4 linked regions of the Homo sapiens genome follow. The protein of the gene in region 1 interacts with the protein of each later gene in a pairwise test. Each region holds a gene or a part of one and is shown in the gene's direction. Other genes may lie near its edges.

What was found.
Region 2: the proteins of PAICS (region 1) and MOB4 interact in a two-hybrid assay, tested with the Homo sapiens proteins (one large-scale study listed by BioGRID and IntAct).
Region 3: the proteins of PAICS (region 1) and FXR1 interact in a two-hybrid assay, tested with the Homo sapiens proteins (one large-scale study listed by BioGRID and IntAct).
Region 4: the proteins of PAICS (region 1) and PIAS2 interact in binary tests that used the Homo sapiens proteins (3 or more experiments, as listed by UniProt).

What each region holds. Positions count from the first base shown.
Region 1 is NC_000004.12:56,439,186-56,443,083, forward strand, and holds part of PAICS (bifunctional phosphoribosylaminoimidazole carboxylase/phosphoribosylaminoimidazole succinocarboxamide synthetase), read left to right. Parts: intron 1-2,477; coding exon 2,478-2,675; intron 2,676-3,898. UniProt on the Homo sapiens protein: Bifunctional phosphoribosylaminoimidazole carboxylase and phosphoribosylaminoimidazole succinocarboxamide synthetase catalyzing two reactions of the de novo purine biosynthetic pathway.
Region 2 is NC_000002.12:197,546,668-197,550,565, forward strand, and holds part of MOB4 (MOB-like protein phocein), read left to right. Parts: intron 1-1,668; coding exon 1,669-1,748; intron 1,749-3,607; coding exon 3,608-3,719; intron 3,720-3,847; coding exon 3,848-3,898. Other genes in the region: HSPE1-MOB4 protein, read left to right, coding at 1,669-1,748, 3,608-3,719, 3,848-3,898.
Region 3 is NC_000003.12:180,947,034-180,950,931, forward strand, and holds part of FXR1 (RNA-binding protein FXR1), read left to right. Parts: intron 1-831; coding exon 832-903; intron 904-1,313; coding exon 1,314-1,462; intron 1,463-1,687; coding exon 1,688-1,781; intron 1,782-2,193; coding exon 2,194-2,310; intron 2,311-3,898. UniProt on the Homo sapiens protein: mRNA-binding protein that acts as a regulator of mRNAs translation and/or stability, and which is required for various processes, such as neurogenesis, muscle development and spermatogenesis.
Region 4 is NC_000018.10:46,805,940-46,809,732, reverse strand, and holds part of PIAS2 (E3 SUMO-protein ligase PIAS2), read left to right. Parts: 3' UTR 1-3,793. UniProt on the Homo sapiens protein: Functions as an E3-type small ubiquitin-like modifier (SUMO) ligase, stabilizing the interaction between UBE2I and the substrate, and as a SUMO-tethering factor.

The sequences.
Region 1 (3,898 bases):
ATTAATATATATAAATGTTAATTTCTTTATCTGATCTGGGCACTGTTTTTTTTGTTTTTGTTTTTTCTTGAGACGGAGTCTCCCTCTCTTGCCCAGGCTGGAGTGCAGTGGCGCCATCTCAGCTCACTGCAACCTCCGCCTTTCAGGTTCAAGCGATTTTCCTGCCTCAGCCTCCCAAGTAGCAAGGATTACAGGCGTGCACCAACACATCCGGCTAATTTTTGTAATTTTAGTAGAGACAGGATTTTACCATGTTGGTCAGCCTGGTCTTGAACTCCTAACCTCAAGTGATCCGCCCGCCTCGGCCTCCCAAAGTGCTGGGATTACAGGCATGAGCCACTGTTCCCGGCCCACTGTTCTTTACCCTTCCCTCTCTTTTATCCTCCATGATGAATTCTCAAAGCTACTATCTTAAATATCTTGCATCTTTGCCCACTACTCTTTCCTTAGACCAAGACATTTCTTTTTCTTTTCCTTTTTTTTTATTGAGACAGGGTCTCACTCTATCACCCAGGCTTGAGTGAAATAGTGCAAATCTTGGCCCACTGCGGCCTCGACCTCCCCAAGTAGCTGAGACTACAGGCATGCACCACCATGCTGGGCTAATTTTTGTTTTTTTGGTAGAGATGGGATTTTGCCCTGTTGCCCAGGCTGGTCTTGAACTCCTGAGCTAAAGCAATCTGCCCTCCTTGTCTTCCTAAAGTGCTGAGATTACAGATGTGAGCCACTGCACCTGGCCAGACGTTTCTTGTTCAAGTTACTGCAACAGCATCCTAACTGGTCTTCCAAGCTCTAGTTTTTGTTCACTCACCCCTTCCTCCCTTCATTGTCCATACAGAAGCCGTAATGATCTTTCCAAATAGCGTTTTGCTTTAGCACTTAAAAGCCTTATAGCTCTTCTTGGGTTAAAGTCTAAACTCAATCAGCATGGCTTGTGAAACAAGAAGGATGTGTAGCAAAATGGAAGGGAAGTTTTCCAGGCCTAGGAAAGAAGAGATTGTCAGAAGCTAGGGGAAGATTGTATAAGAATTAAAGATGTTGGAGTTCTAGATAGGAAATAGACAAATAAGAGTTTGGAGCAGTAAGCCAGGGCTGTATCTTAAAGGGACTTTTAAACCATGTTAATGAGTCTAGACATTACATTAGGGAGGGTAGAGATTCATCCTCTAAATTAGGTGCCCTACAGTGGCAACTGTTAACTAAATTACAACTACTTTGTTTAATGGTTACCTCCACTAGCTGGTGATGTGGCCCCTGTCCAACTCTTAAGTCTTGTCTCCTGCCATTCTTTAGCTGCAGCCCCCACCCCTTCCCCTGCCCAACAGCAATGTACATATACCCAGAGCTCCAGCTCCAACCAGACTGAAGTTCTGCAATCCACTTTGACCACCTTGTATTTATTCATCAACACTACCTACCCCTTTCTCTCCTTTGGCTAAATTTCGATGATTCTTCAGATTTCAACCTGTCACTTTCTTGTAGACTTCTTTTTCTAATGTCTAGACTAGTCCCATAGTCTGTATTTATTGCATTCTATTATTATGATGTCTTATTTAATATCAGCTCCCCTCAGACTCAGGTCTCTTGAGAGCAGGAATTATTATTTACTGGTACATCCCTTGGCACATGGATACACCGGGAAAATGTTGATACTGAGAGTGTTGTGGAAGTATGAGGGTTGATTTCTCTCTTTCGAAATTTTAAGTTCCTAAACATCTGTTATCTTTACTCTTTCTCTAAATCATCCTTTTGTGTACTTCTTAGGTTTTGTGACCAGCATCAAAATTGGATTCCTTTGTGCTCACTTCCTCACAATTTCTTACAACTGTTAGTGAAGAGAAAGGATTAATGGGGGCAGGGACAGGATTAAGAAATAGAGAGGGATGCTTCCAAATGTGCTAACTTCAATGGGATGGCATGCCTCCTCTTGAATATTAACTTGAAATCAAGAAACTCATCTGGCTGAATGTTCCCATTTTGCCTACAAAAAAGCAAATATCAGCAAAAATCGCATATTTTTTCCTGCAAGATAGTTTAGATACTATACTGTGAGTGTGTCTGTGAAAATACTAGTATAGTTACATTACTTTAAGTGGGTCTTAATTAATTTTAATTCTAGTTCAGTTCTGCTATGAGAGGCAGGTTAATAGTGGAAAGAGCACAGGATTTGATGTCAGAGGAGTTAGGATTTTATCTACCTCTTATATTTCCTAACTGCATGACCCTCAACCCTTTTGATTTCTGCTTTACTAATTTCTACAATTATTTATGTAATTAAAATTCTTCACAAGATCATGTGAATCAAATGTGATGGTATGAGAAATACATTGTAGAGTATATGGTTTTATACAGATGATTTAATTTTTATTAATATTACTTAATCACTGTATATTTACAGATTAATTGTTCTAGGTGATTTAGTCTTCAGCATTCAGGAAGTTTCTGAATTTTGGTCTATTTCCATTTTATTTCCACAGTACTGAACATTGGTAAAAAATTATATGAGGGTAAAACAAAAGAAGTCTACGAATTGTTAGACAGTCCAGGAAAAGTCCTCCTGCAGTCCAAGGACCAGATTACAGCAGGAAATGCAGCTAGAAAAAACCACCTGGAAGGAAAAGCTGCAATCTCAAATAAAATCACCAGTTGTATTTTTCAGTTATTACAGGAAGCAGGTAAGCAGCTCCCTCAAAGTCTCTTCTCTCACCTTCTCTGGTAAGCATGTCGATGTCTTTCATGTGAAGTTGGCATTAATATGAACAACTTGTTTGCAGATGTCTCAAAAGCTAAGTGAATTTAAATCAAACCAAGAACCCTTAAACTTCACTATAACACCTTATTTGGTTTGGGATTATTAGTATCATTGAATTAAAAGGAATCTTAACAAGTTTGCTGTAATCTTTATCTGGCACATGCACTCTCTGTGCAGCTTACCTCTCCAAGGCCATCTTCACTTTAAGGAATTTAACTATGAAGGAAACCCATTTTAATGTTAAGCAGTTCTAACATGAAGAACTGAAATTTACTCCCTGTAATTCTATACAAATGGTCTTTGTTCTGCCTCTGGGAGATAATACAGAATTTCAAATTCCTCTTCCACTTGAAAGCCCTGAAAAGTAGTTGAAGACAGCAACCAAACCTTCTCCTCCTGCCATTCCCCAAGTGAGATATTTGAACTAAAACCCCAGAGCGCCCTCCTGTTCAAAAACTGAATGAAGGCTCTATTTTCAATAGAGAAATAGATTCAAAAGACCAAATGAAGATCAGAACATTGTGTGGTGGGTATTTGAAGCAAAGGGAAGGAAATTAGGATAAAGGGGTTTTCTGCAGGGATTCAGTCAGTTGCTGGTTGGTCTGTAGTATATGAAATTTCAGCTAGGAAAAGATTTGAACTCTTGCCACACAGTGTAAATAGCCTCATTGCTTTGGATCATTCAACCTACGAAACCTTACCTATGAAATAAAAGCTTTTTCTTTATCATTCTTGCCAATTCTAATTTTATAATTTAATAACTTTCCTTACTTTTAATTCCAATATTCCCAGTTGCCCTTTCATTTCTTAGAGTTTCTGGTAGCACTAATCTTTCTTAAATTCAACAGGGGATTTAATGCTTTTGTTTTCAGTTAAGTTAGATGTACGTGCCTTCCACAAAATAACAAGGTAATGTAATTTAAATACATTGTCAGTGCATTCTTGGCGTAGTTTTGTCTCTTCCAAAGTATCCTATTTCACAATTTTGATTAATGTGAAAAAGATTTAATTGCAAACCTGGATTGTCATCTACATCATAAATTCCTCTATGCTGTGAAAGTGAGTGTATTGCTGTAAATTTAAAGGATCTTCCAGAGTTCCTAAGTCACAGAATCTAAGATTTTTATTTCAAGGTTTCTTGATTGG
Region 2 (3,898 bases), on another chromosome or scaffold:
GGAATTACAGGCGTGAGCCACCACATTGGGCCTAGAAAATTTAAAATTAAATATATGGCTTGCATTATACAGTTGACCCTTGAACAACTCCGGGATTGGGATCCCAACCCTCTGTGCAGCTGAAAATCTGAGTATCTAACTTTTGACTCCCCCAAAACTTAATTACTAATAGCCTACTGTTGACTGGAAGCCTTACCGATAACAGTCGATTAACACACATTTTGTATGTTCTGTGTATTATATAGTGTATTGCAATGAAGGAAGCTAGAGAAAATGTTATTCAGAAAATCATAAGGGGCTGGGCGTGATGGCTTATGCCTGTAAACCCAGCACTTTGGGAGGCTGAGATGGGAGGATCGCTTGAGGCCAGGAGTTCGAGACCAGCCTGGTCAACATAGTGAGACCTTCTTTCTTTCTTTTTTTTAAAGAAAATCGTAAGGAAGAGAAAATATATTTGCCATTCATTAAGTGGATCATTGTAAAGGTCTTCCTTGTTGTGTTCATGTCGTTGAGTAGGCTGAGGAGAAAGAGAAAGAAGTGGGGTTGGTCTTGCCGTTGCTGGGAAAATCTGAGCATAAGTGGATTTACGCAGTTCAAACCTGTGTTGTTCAAGGGTCTGCTGTATTTCTGTTGATGATTCTGGTTTAAAGGTTGTAAAACTGTCTCATGGTATACCCAAATGACAAATATGAGAAATACAGTTACTTGGGATATTTGCTTTTGACCAACTCATCTGTGGTCATATATCTGGAGAAAGGTAGTTTTTTTCAATAAATATTGCTCATGGTACTGTTTTTGGCAAGGAGTCCACTAATCAGAAATTCCTGTGGATATATTGTTAGAAAAATACTTCTTTTTTATTAGGTAATTTTTTAGTGCCACGGCACTAAGCCATATTTAGTAGTTACTAAACCGTATTTCTAAGTGACAGCTTCAGTCTCAAACTTGAAAAATAACCTAATTACTGGGTAGAGTCTTTGAGCTACAGTCATTGTTACTCCTTCCTCTAGTTGTTTTTTCCTTCTGGTTGACTCCCTGGTTTGTTTCTAGACTGCTTTCCCCTTGATGTTGCTCCCTGTCTGCCCTCAGGAGGACTGGATGAGGACAATTACTTTGCAGTTTTATTTTTCCTTTAATAAATTTACTGAGTTGCCATGAGACAGTGTTTCATTGTTTCTTTTTTTCATTGTTTCTGATAAATGGAACAGAATAAGTCAGATTTATTAAAATATAAGGAAACTTTGATATTTCATGTTAAAATTCAAAGGTGATCTGGGAGAAAGTTCTTTAGAGGGCTGCTAGATTGATAATAGAGTGCTAGGGACATAATAAGGAATATTGTTTAGGATATAAGAAGGCATCCCTGGAGATACCAGAGATAAATCAGGATTCTTCTTGTCTGTAATTGTTGTTTTCTTGTAGGTACGATGTTGGGAATAAAAATGGGAGACTGGTTTATGTATCATCTAGAATTGTGATATGGTTCAAGGGGATAATAAACCTTACTTATTAATATAACATTATATTTTACAAGCATTCGGAAATTGTAAGGAACTTTTTTCTTAGAACATGCTCATGTCTTTGGAATAAGGTATACCCATATAATGAATATATCTAACTTAAGAGAGAGCTCTTTGTTGATGCATTTCTATATTCTTTCTTTTGTAGTGTCCTGCTATAGACTATACTAGACACACACTTGATGGTGCTGCATGTCTTCTGAATAGCAATAAATATTTTCCCAGCAGGTAATCGAAACTTTTAAACATAGTGTTAAACATTTTAGAGTTAATTTATAAGATTGGTATTTTAGGGGGGAGGGGGGAGGGATAGTATTAGGAGCTATACCTAATGCTAAATGATGAGTTAATGGGTGCAGCACACCAACATGGCACATGTATACATATGTTACAAACCTGCACGTTGTGCACATGTACCCTAAAACTTAAAGTATAAATAATAATAAAATAAAAGATTAGTATTTTAAAAGTAAAATTAGGTTGCTCGTTAATGCATTTTTGTATTTTTTTTTTTAGCTGTTGTATTTTGGCTTGTTTATTCAAGTTTTGAAATTAGGACTGTGGTTAAACAGCAGAACTTGGCTGTCAAAGCTCAAGGCCAGTTCAGTCTAAGGCTAGTACCTGTTCATATATGTCATTCTGCAGAGCTCTCCCTCTCATGCTTTAGAGTTGGGATATGTATATACTTGCTCACTTGAATCTCTATGTTAGTTAGACTCGACCTCCCTTTATGTAGTATGCCTAAAGAGCAGACTTTCTGGCTGGGCGCAGTGGCTCACGGATGTAATCCCAGCACTTTGGGAGGCCGAGGCGTGCGGATCACCTGAGATTGGGAGTTCGAGACCAGCCTGAACAACATGTAGAAACTCCTTCTCTACTAAAAATACAAAATGATCTGGGCATGGTGACGAGTACCTGTAATCCCAGCCACTTGGGAGGCTGAGGCAGGAGAATCGCTTGAACCCAGGAGGCAGAGGTTGTGGTGAGCCGAGATCGCGCCATTGCACTCCGGCCTGGGCAACAAGAGCGAAACTGTCTCAAAAAAAAAAGAGCAGACTTTCTTATTTGTTTTTGAAGGATTCCTTATCCTTGCTCATTGATTTTTAAGATCTGAGAAGTCTGTACATGTAATATATTATCGGTGAAGTTTGTGACTGCCTTTTATTTTATTAAGGTATTTGTTACCAGGTGGATAGATTTGGAGATTTCCCCCACCAAATATGATTAGCTTCAAAGAGCTCATATAAAATATGTTAAGAAAAATACTGACTTTTGACCTTAATATTCTGTGTATACATATTTTAAAAAAGGATATCAGAAATATGCAGAAAATTTCAATTTTAAAAAAACAATTTTAATTTCTCTCTCTCTGTTTTTCTTTTTCTATATGGAGTCTTGCTCAACCAGGCTGGAGTGCAGTGGCGCAATCTCAGCTCACTGCAACCTCTGCCTCCTGGGTTCAAGCGTTTCTCCTGCCTCAGCCTCATGAGTAGCTGGGATTACAAGTGCCTGCCACCACGCCTGGCTGATTTTTGTATTTTCTAGTAGAGACGGGGTTTCACCATGTTGGCCAGGCTGGTTTCGAACTCCTGACCTCAGATGATCCACCTGCCTTGGCCTCCCAAAGTGCTGGGATTACAGGCGTGAGCCACCACACCTGGCCTTAATTTCTAAAAAAAAAAAAAAAAAAAAGAAAAGAAAAGGAAAGAATAACCTAGTTCTGTAAAATAAAACAATAATTCCTTTCAGGAGTTTTCAATCGCCTCTAGTGGACAATGTATTAATGTTGGAAATAGATGTTATAGTAAATTTTGAAATGTCAGGGATTTATTCTAACTGCATTAAACTTTTACAAAGTTTCAAAACTATAATGCTGAATTTAAGTTAGGCCCTGTGATTAGGTAGAAAGAACACTGGCCTAGAACTGAGGAGCAGGGGCTCCAGGCATTTACTCGCAGTGTGACCTTGGAGTAGTCGCTTATTTTCCCTAGGTGTCAGTTTCTACACTTGTAAGCGAGAAATTGGACTATATTGTTCCTAAGATTCTATCCAGTTCTAAGAATCTATGGTTTCTTTTCTACTTCTAGGGTTAGCATAAAGGAATCATCTGTAGCGAAACTAGGATCAGTATGCCGTAGGATTTACAGAATATTTTCACATGCTTATTTTCATCATCGGCAGATATTTGATGAATATGAAGTAAGTATATTTCACTGATTATCTTGATGCATTCTTATCAGTGTAACAGTAATATATATTGATGTTATTTCTAGTCTTTTAGTTTGGGATAGTGAATTAAAATAACATTTTTGTCTTCCTCTCTACAGAATGAAACATTTTTGTGTCATCGGTTTACTAAGTTTGTGATGAAATACAAT
Region 3 (3,898 bases), on another chromosome or scaffold:
TGTTTTTTTGTGGATAGTTTTTATTTTGTTTTTTTTGAGATGGAGTTTTGCTCTAGGTGCCTAGGCTGGAGTGCAATGGTGTGATCTCTGCTCACTGCATCCTCCACCCTCTGGACATGATTCTCCTGCCTCAGCCCTCCGAGTAGATGAGATTACAGGCACCTGCCACCATGCCCGGCTAATTTTTATATTTTAGTAGAGACAGGGTTTACCGTGTTGGTCAGCCTTGTCTCGAACTCCTGACCTCAGGTTATCCACCCACCTTGGCCTCCCAAAGTGCTGGGATTACAGGTGTGAGCCACTGCGTCCGGCCTGGATAGGAATTTTGTAAGATACTTAATGTATTCTGCTAGATGGACTGAATGTGTGTAATTTTTTTGTTCAGTTAAACAATTTTAGTACATTTGATTTAGGTTCTTTAGCACGGGATCTAAATGTCATATCCTCGATGGAATTTAAAAATTACGTTAATCACTTTCTGAGAACAATTTTTAATATTAACAATGTTGACAGAAACAGGAAGACCTGTGTTTTACATTATTTAAAACTCCTTTGTAAGAGCATTTCTTTAAAATAATACTTATGTTTAGTAAACCTCATGAATATGGAATTAATTTCTAAGAAGCTAAATTGCCCAAAAAAGTAGTTTTATTTTTAAGTAGTAAATTTAAGTTACATATCACTTTCTTTAAATTGCATTTAATATGCCAATTTAAATAAAATAGCATTTTTCATTCTTAAGTTTATTGGGATTGGGTATTAATAAAAAGTCATTTACAGCATTGAAATCTTTTGGGATGAATGGATATAGGCATTTTTTTTTCTTCTCAGGTATATTCAAGAGCAAATGACCAAGAGCCATGTGGGTGGTGGTTGGCTAAAGTTCGGATGATGAAAGGAGAAGTAAGTACTCTTCACACTTGCTTTGTGACTAGTTTCTAAGGAAGTACCTCAGTGCTTGGTTTTTGTAAATCTTATTTCAACTGTTAGTTTTATTTCTAAAAGCCTACCTGAGAAATAGTTGATCAGACATTTCCATTAGCATTAATTTCTGTTTGTGTTCTGTATTGGCAAACACCAAAGCTGCTCTCCAGAGGTACACCTCAAGCATGTAAGGACCGCCAAGGTTCATGCTTGTAAGAACCTATAATCTAGTTTAGGCAAATCAGATTGATGTAGCTAAGCTGTGCTTAGTATTTTATGCCACATGGGGGAGGGTCCGTTGGTTAAGCTGAGCAAGGTAATTAGAACTTCATTTAAACTTCATTATTTTTGTTCAGATGGGATTTTTAAAGTATTTTGATGTCTTTTAGTTTTATGTCATTGAATATGCTGCTTGTGACGCTACTTACAATGAAATAGTCACATTTGAACGACTTCGGCCTGTCAATCAAAATAAAACTGTCAAAAAAAATACCTTCTTTAAATGCACAGTGGATGTTCCTGAGGATTTGAGAGAGGCGTGAGTAATTTTATATACTATTGAATTGTTCTGTGAATTAAGAAGATTTTTCAGTCCTACAAAACATTTTCCCTAATGCCCAATCAAACCTTCTGATGGAAAATCATCTTAATGAACAAAGGTTTTAGTGGGGCTTGTCAAAATGAAACACTGACTTTGTATTGTGACTCTCCTCTGACTTTAATCTGTTATTGAGTTCTTACACATAAATTGATTTCTCTCTAGGTGTGCTAATGAAAATGCACATAAAGATTTTAAGAAAGCAGTAGGAGCATGCAGAATTTTTTACCATCCAGAAACAACACAGCTAATGATACTGGTAAGATAGTACCATATTATAAGGTAGCTTATTAATGGATATTGCACAGATTTTATAATTACATATTTCAGAAGAGAAAAGCTAAGATCAACTTAGTGTATAGTGAATTTATTAATATAGTGTGGGAGAAAAATTTGTTTGCAGCTATAAAATGTTAATTACATTCTTAACATCATAAAATTCTTAATGTGTGAGATTCCGGATTTTTCCCCAATCAAACATATTCTGAATAGCAGATCTAAATAATACAGGAATTCAGAAAGGAAAGTGTGATTACTCAGAGTAGTGAGTGTTAGGTGAAAGAAGTGTAGTAGATGAGAAGCAAGGAAGGCTTTGCATAGAAGATGGGATGGTGTTTGTGCTATTTGGAAGAATGATTAAAGTTTTGAGTAATTAGCTTGTTTGTTTATAGTCTGCCAGTGAAGCAACTGTGAAGAGAGTAAACATCTTAAGTGACATGCATTTGCGAAGTATTCGTACGAAGTTGATGCTTATGTCCAGAAATGAAGAGGCCACTAAGCATTTAGAAGTAAGTGGGTTTACTTACAAAAGAGTTTTCTGTGTCCCATTTAGTTTTTGTTTGTTTTTTGGAGACAGATTCTGGCTCTGTTGCCCAGGCTAGAGTGCAGTGGCACAATCTTGGCTTACTGCAACCTCCACCTCCCGGATTCAAGCGGTTCTCCTGCCTCAGCCTCCGTGTAGCTGGGATTGCAGGTGTGCCCCACCAAGCCCAGCTAATTTTTGTATTTTAGTAGAGGTGGGGTTTTGCCATGTTGGCCAGGCTGGTCTCGAGCTCCTGGGCTCAAGTGATTGCCCGCCTCAGCCTCTCAAAGTGCTGGGATTACAGGCATGAGCCACCGAACCTGGCCCCCATTTAGTTTTATATTTTTCAAGTTCCTTGCTTCAAACGAAGGCAGCCCAGGACCTCTGTTTCGTGACTGTTTGGAGTTGTGTCCGTAGAACAATTGCTTTTCCATTTTACCTTTTATCAAACATAGCCTTTCCTTTGCGAAATGCCTGTTGACTTGTTGGTAGGACTTAGATGACAGGTGCCAAAGAGCTAAGAAACTAGGGATACTCAGTAGACTGTATTGCTAGTTCTTTACTTTGTATTTAACCTTTTTATTTTTTTAACTGCCTTGTCATCTGTCAGTCATGATATCTTTCATCAGTAACTAGTTCACTGTAACAACTCTTGTGTGAGAGGAGAGGAGGACTAGGAGTGAGGCATCATGTGGCATGTAGTATTAAAATATTAAGCTTATCATTATATCTCTGTCTTATCCTAAGGTACTCTGTTTTGTCCTGTTCTTCCCTGCTACACTAGTAGGATACTTGTTCTTCCCACTCACTCACACTTTCTAGATCTAGATGAACACATGTGCATGCACACACTGTGATGTCTCAGAGAAATTAAGATATGTTTATTATCCTTAGGACAAATTTGGAAATGTTCTCATTAATTTAAAAATTCTGAACAAGGGATATGTGAACAAATCTGCCTGTATCTGGAAAAGTGTTTTAGACTAATAAAATAGATGAATAAAACAGTTTCTTTTCCCCATTCATTTTATGACATTAGATGAGTTTCCTTTGTTTCTTAAGAAACTTGAGTTTTGGCCTTTTTAAAAAAATTTATGTGGGTTTTCGGTGGTTTTTTCTTCTTGGGTTTTTCTTTATACTGTGGTAAAGTACATATGAAACTTAGCATCTTAACCATTTTTAAGTGTACACTTAGTATTAAGTATGTTTACATTATTGATCAATCTTCAGTACATCTCATCTTGTAAAACTGCAAATCTATACCCTTTAGACAGCTGCTCATTTTCCCCTTTCCACAGCCCCTGACAACCATCATTCTATTTTCTGTTGCTATAAATTTGACTATTTTAGATACCTCATGTAAGTAAAATCATTTTAGTCTTTTTTGTGACTGGCATATTTTACTTAGCATCAAGGTTCATCTATGTAGCATGTGTCAGAATTTCCTTTTTAAGGCAGAATGTATATACCACATTATGTTCATTCATTAATTGGTCTGTGGATTTGGGTTGCTTTCACCTCTTTACTGTCGTAAATAATGCTATGAACATGGATTTGCAATAAAACATTTTGTG
Region 4 (3,793 bases), on another chromosome or scaffold:
CCCGGGATGGAGTGCAATGGTGCGATCTTGGCTCACCGCAACCTCCACCTACAGGGTTCAAGCGATTCTCCTGCCTCAGCCTCCCGAGTAGCTGGGATTACAGGCATGTATCACCACGCCCAGCTAATTTTGTATTTTTAGTAGATACGGGGTTTCTCCATTTTGGTCAGGCTGGTCTCGAACTCCCGACCTCAGGTGATCCGCCTGCCTTGGCCTCCCAAAGTGCTGGGATTTACAGGCGTGAGCCACCGCGCCTGGCCAAAATAAAATGTTTTTATCTTTCTTCACTTAGAACTATGAAGGCCTTTTCTTGTTCTGGTAACCCCCCACAGTGTAATTGGTGCTGAAAATAGTTTCGTGCCTGAGGTCTGTTGTCACTCACTCACTTTCTGACAATTAGGTGAGCCACTTGAGGATTTTCTGGCCTGAAGTTATAAAAACTTGGCATCTGTCCTAAGGTAATTGTAAAGGCAAAATGAAAGCATTGAGGTGAATTTAGGTTATATGGCATTTATCTGGTAATGTGTTTCAGAAAAGCTAGAATGAAAATGTGATGTAAGGGATAGCAAGTGTAGGTTGATTCATAATTCTTGGTATAAAACCAAGTTTTCCTTAGTCTTGAGGAATTTGAAGAAAGGTAAAATGTTGGATTTTAAGCAAAGTAGGATTGACCAGAGACTGTTCTGACTTTGACATTCAGACCTTTCAGATGTTCTTCCTTCAGACCAGTCCAAGACACTCAGCATTTCCAGCCAAGTTGTCTTTTTTTTCTGCCAATAAAGTATTCATTAGTTGACGTTTGTTTGTATTTTAAGTAAAGTCAATTTTTTTTAAAGCATTAATTTAATTCACGGGTATGCCTTTCATTTCTCTGGCCTTCAGTTGGTTTAAAAAAAAAAAAAAAAAAAAAAGCACTTAGCCGGACCATTCTTTCTTTAGTAAACATTTTTATTTTCTTAATTTTTCCTGAAAGATTTTCTTCATTTTCATGGAATGTCATAATGACACTACCATTATTTTCTAGCTCTTTGCATAATAGAAAAATGTAGAGCAGTGCACCATTTAAACACGTCTGACATTGGATTTAGTGGTCCTAGGTTCATGTGATTTGGGAGCCTTAAGTTGTTATTTAGATTGATTCAGCCTGATTCACCATCTTTTTTACTACAGTTCTACATGAATGTGGTGAAACAGGTAGAAGAAAATTAAGCATTTCTCTGCTTTTGGAGTCTAATGTTCCTGCCTAGTGACTGGTTTGTAACACCCCCCTCACCCCTACTTTGTTAGGAACCTGCAATTCCTAAAAGAAATAAATAAAGCTGTACCCAATGTCCATTCTTTAATGCTTGCCTGGTTGAATAATGTTTGTTTTTTCTGTTTATGTCAGTAGTACATGCTTATTGTGGAAAATTTAGACAATACAGAAAAGTATAACAATTAATTGCCTATGATTCTGTCACCAGAAAAAATCACTTGATATTTTTGCATCTTCCTTGCCATTGTCTTTGCTACTTCTGCATATTTTTACTTAGTTTCATCATTCTCAGTGTAATTTATATCTTGGGGTTTTTCCCCGCAACCTACAGGCATTATTCCATGTCATTAAAACTGTGTCAACTATTATTAATTTTATGGTACTCCATTGTTATGGATGTGCCATGTTTCATATAACCTTTACTTATTTTGAACAGTTTAGATTATATCTCATAATGCCACAATGAATGTCTTTGTGTATAAATTATTTTCTTAGGATAAAATACTGGAGGTGGAATTTCTAGTCAAGGGTATATGAACACTTTTGTAGTTCTTGATTCATACCACTTTTCCACATGGGTATGTTAATTTATACTGCAGCTAGATGGTATGGGAAGGGTGGTCTAGCCATATTTTCCAAGAACATGCAACGTTTTATCTTTATGCAGGCATCTGCACTAAGACCCTCTGCCTTTCTGACTCTATGGAACGGGGTTAACTGATATGGAGATCATTGGCAGAGATTTTCCCAAGCTTTCTTAGTTTTAAATATATCTGACATGGGCCGGGTATGGAGGCTCACGCCTGTAATCCCAGCACTTTGGGAGGCCAAGGCGGGCAGATAATCTGAAGTCAGGAGTTGGAGACCAGCCTGGCTAACATGGAACATGGTGAAACCCCATCTCTAGCAAAAACATAAATTAGGTGGGTGTGATGGCAGGCGCCTGTAGTCCCAGCTACTTGGGAGACCGAGGCAGGAGAATCGCTTGAACCCAGGAGGCGGAGGATTTGCAGTGATCCGAGATTGTGCCACTGCACTCCAGCCTGGGTAACAAAGCAAGACTCTCTAAAAAAAAAAAAAAAAAAAAAAAAAAATATATATATATATATATATATATATATAAAATCTGACATGTTTCAGAAACACCTACGTATGGCTATCCAAGCTTTTCCCATGATTTTACTGGCACTGTAAAGTTGCACAAATATTCTTTGTCAGACTACGTTTTCCATCTTTAGTTCAAAAGTTTTGTCACTTTTTAAAAAAAGCCTCTTGTACCTAAGGCCTGCCCTTAAGAGGTCAGCTCTCTTTTTCCTCTTCCTGTAGGCCCCATTATGGCCTTTCTGAGCTCCCCAAAGCCAGTAGAATCTACTGAGCCAAAGGCATTCCATCCCCAAACTGAAAAGTGGTAAGGCTAAAAGCTATAAAAACAGGCAAACATTGCCTGTTTTCACTTTATATTCCCTTATGTTTCCAATAAGGGTAGCTGCAGGGAAAGAAAAAAACAGATTGCTACCTTCAGATGTTTGAGGTACAACATTTTCTTGATTGGCGTAGCACAATCATTTCCCAAACTGCTTCCTATTTCTGAATGGCTTTTTTAAAAAGCTTTATTTTGTGTTCTCAAAGCTTAATTATTTTAAGTGACGAAGAGTGTTACCGTGTTGTAGAATAGCATATGCCTCTTATTTTGGCCTTCATCAAACTGTTTAATAAATGTTTAGAGTGTTTTGTAAGTACACGTGGAATAGAGTGTTACAGAAGTTTTGGTTCCAGACATCAGGCAGCTTATAATCAAGGTTCCAAAAATCAAGAATTCTTAAGCTGGGCATGGTGGCTCATGCCTGTAATCCCAGCACTTTGGGAAGCCAAGGCAGGCAAATCACTTGAGGCCAGGAGTTTGAGACCAGCCTGGCCAACTTGGTAAAACCCCATCTCTACTAAAAATACAAAAAATTAGGGCATGATGGCTCATGTCTGTAATCCCAGCTACTTGGGAGGCTGAGGGATGAGAATTGCTTGAACCTGAGAGGCGGAGGTTGCAGTGACTCAGGATCATGACCCTGTACTCCAGCCTGGGTGACAGAGTGAGACCAAAAAAAAAAAAAAAAAAAAAAAAAAAAAGTAACAGGCATTGTGCAAAGAATTTTCCAAGAATGTCTCATTCTTGCAATGGCTTCTCAGAGGAAAGTGGTGTTATTCCCCATTTTACAAATGAAACAGGTTTAGGTAAGTTTCCCAAGGTCACAGTGAATGAGTAGTGGACTTGGGAGTCTGACCTAGACTTACCCCAAAAGCTCTCTGCGTAAACTGAAGTGACGTTAATTAGCTGTGCTATCTAGGAGACTGATATGGGAATCTAGACTTAAAATTATGAGAACTGGTTTCAGATGATGGCCAGAGTAATAAGGAAGGAGTGGATGCTGAAGCCATTTCAAAGGAAGACTCAAGATTCAGTGACTGAATATAGGAGTAAGGGTTGAGTGCATTTTTCATCCATTTTTCAAGCCTGGGTAACTTGGATGTTAATGGCACTAT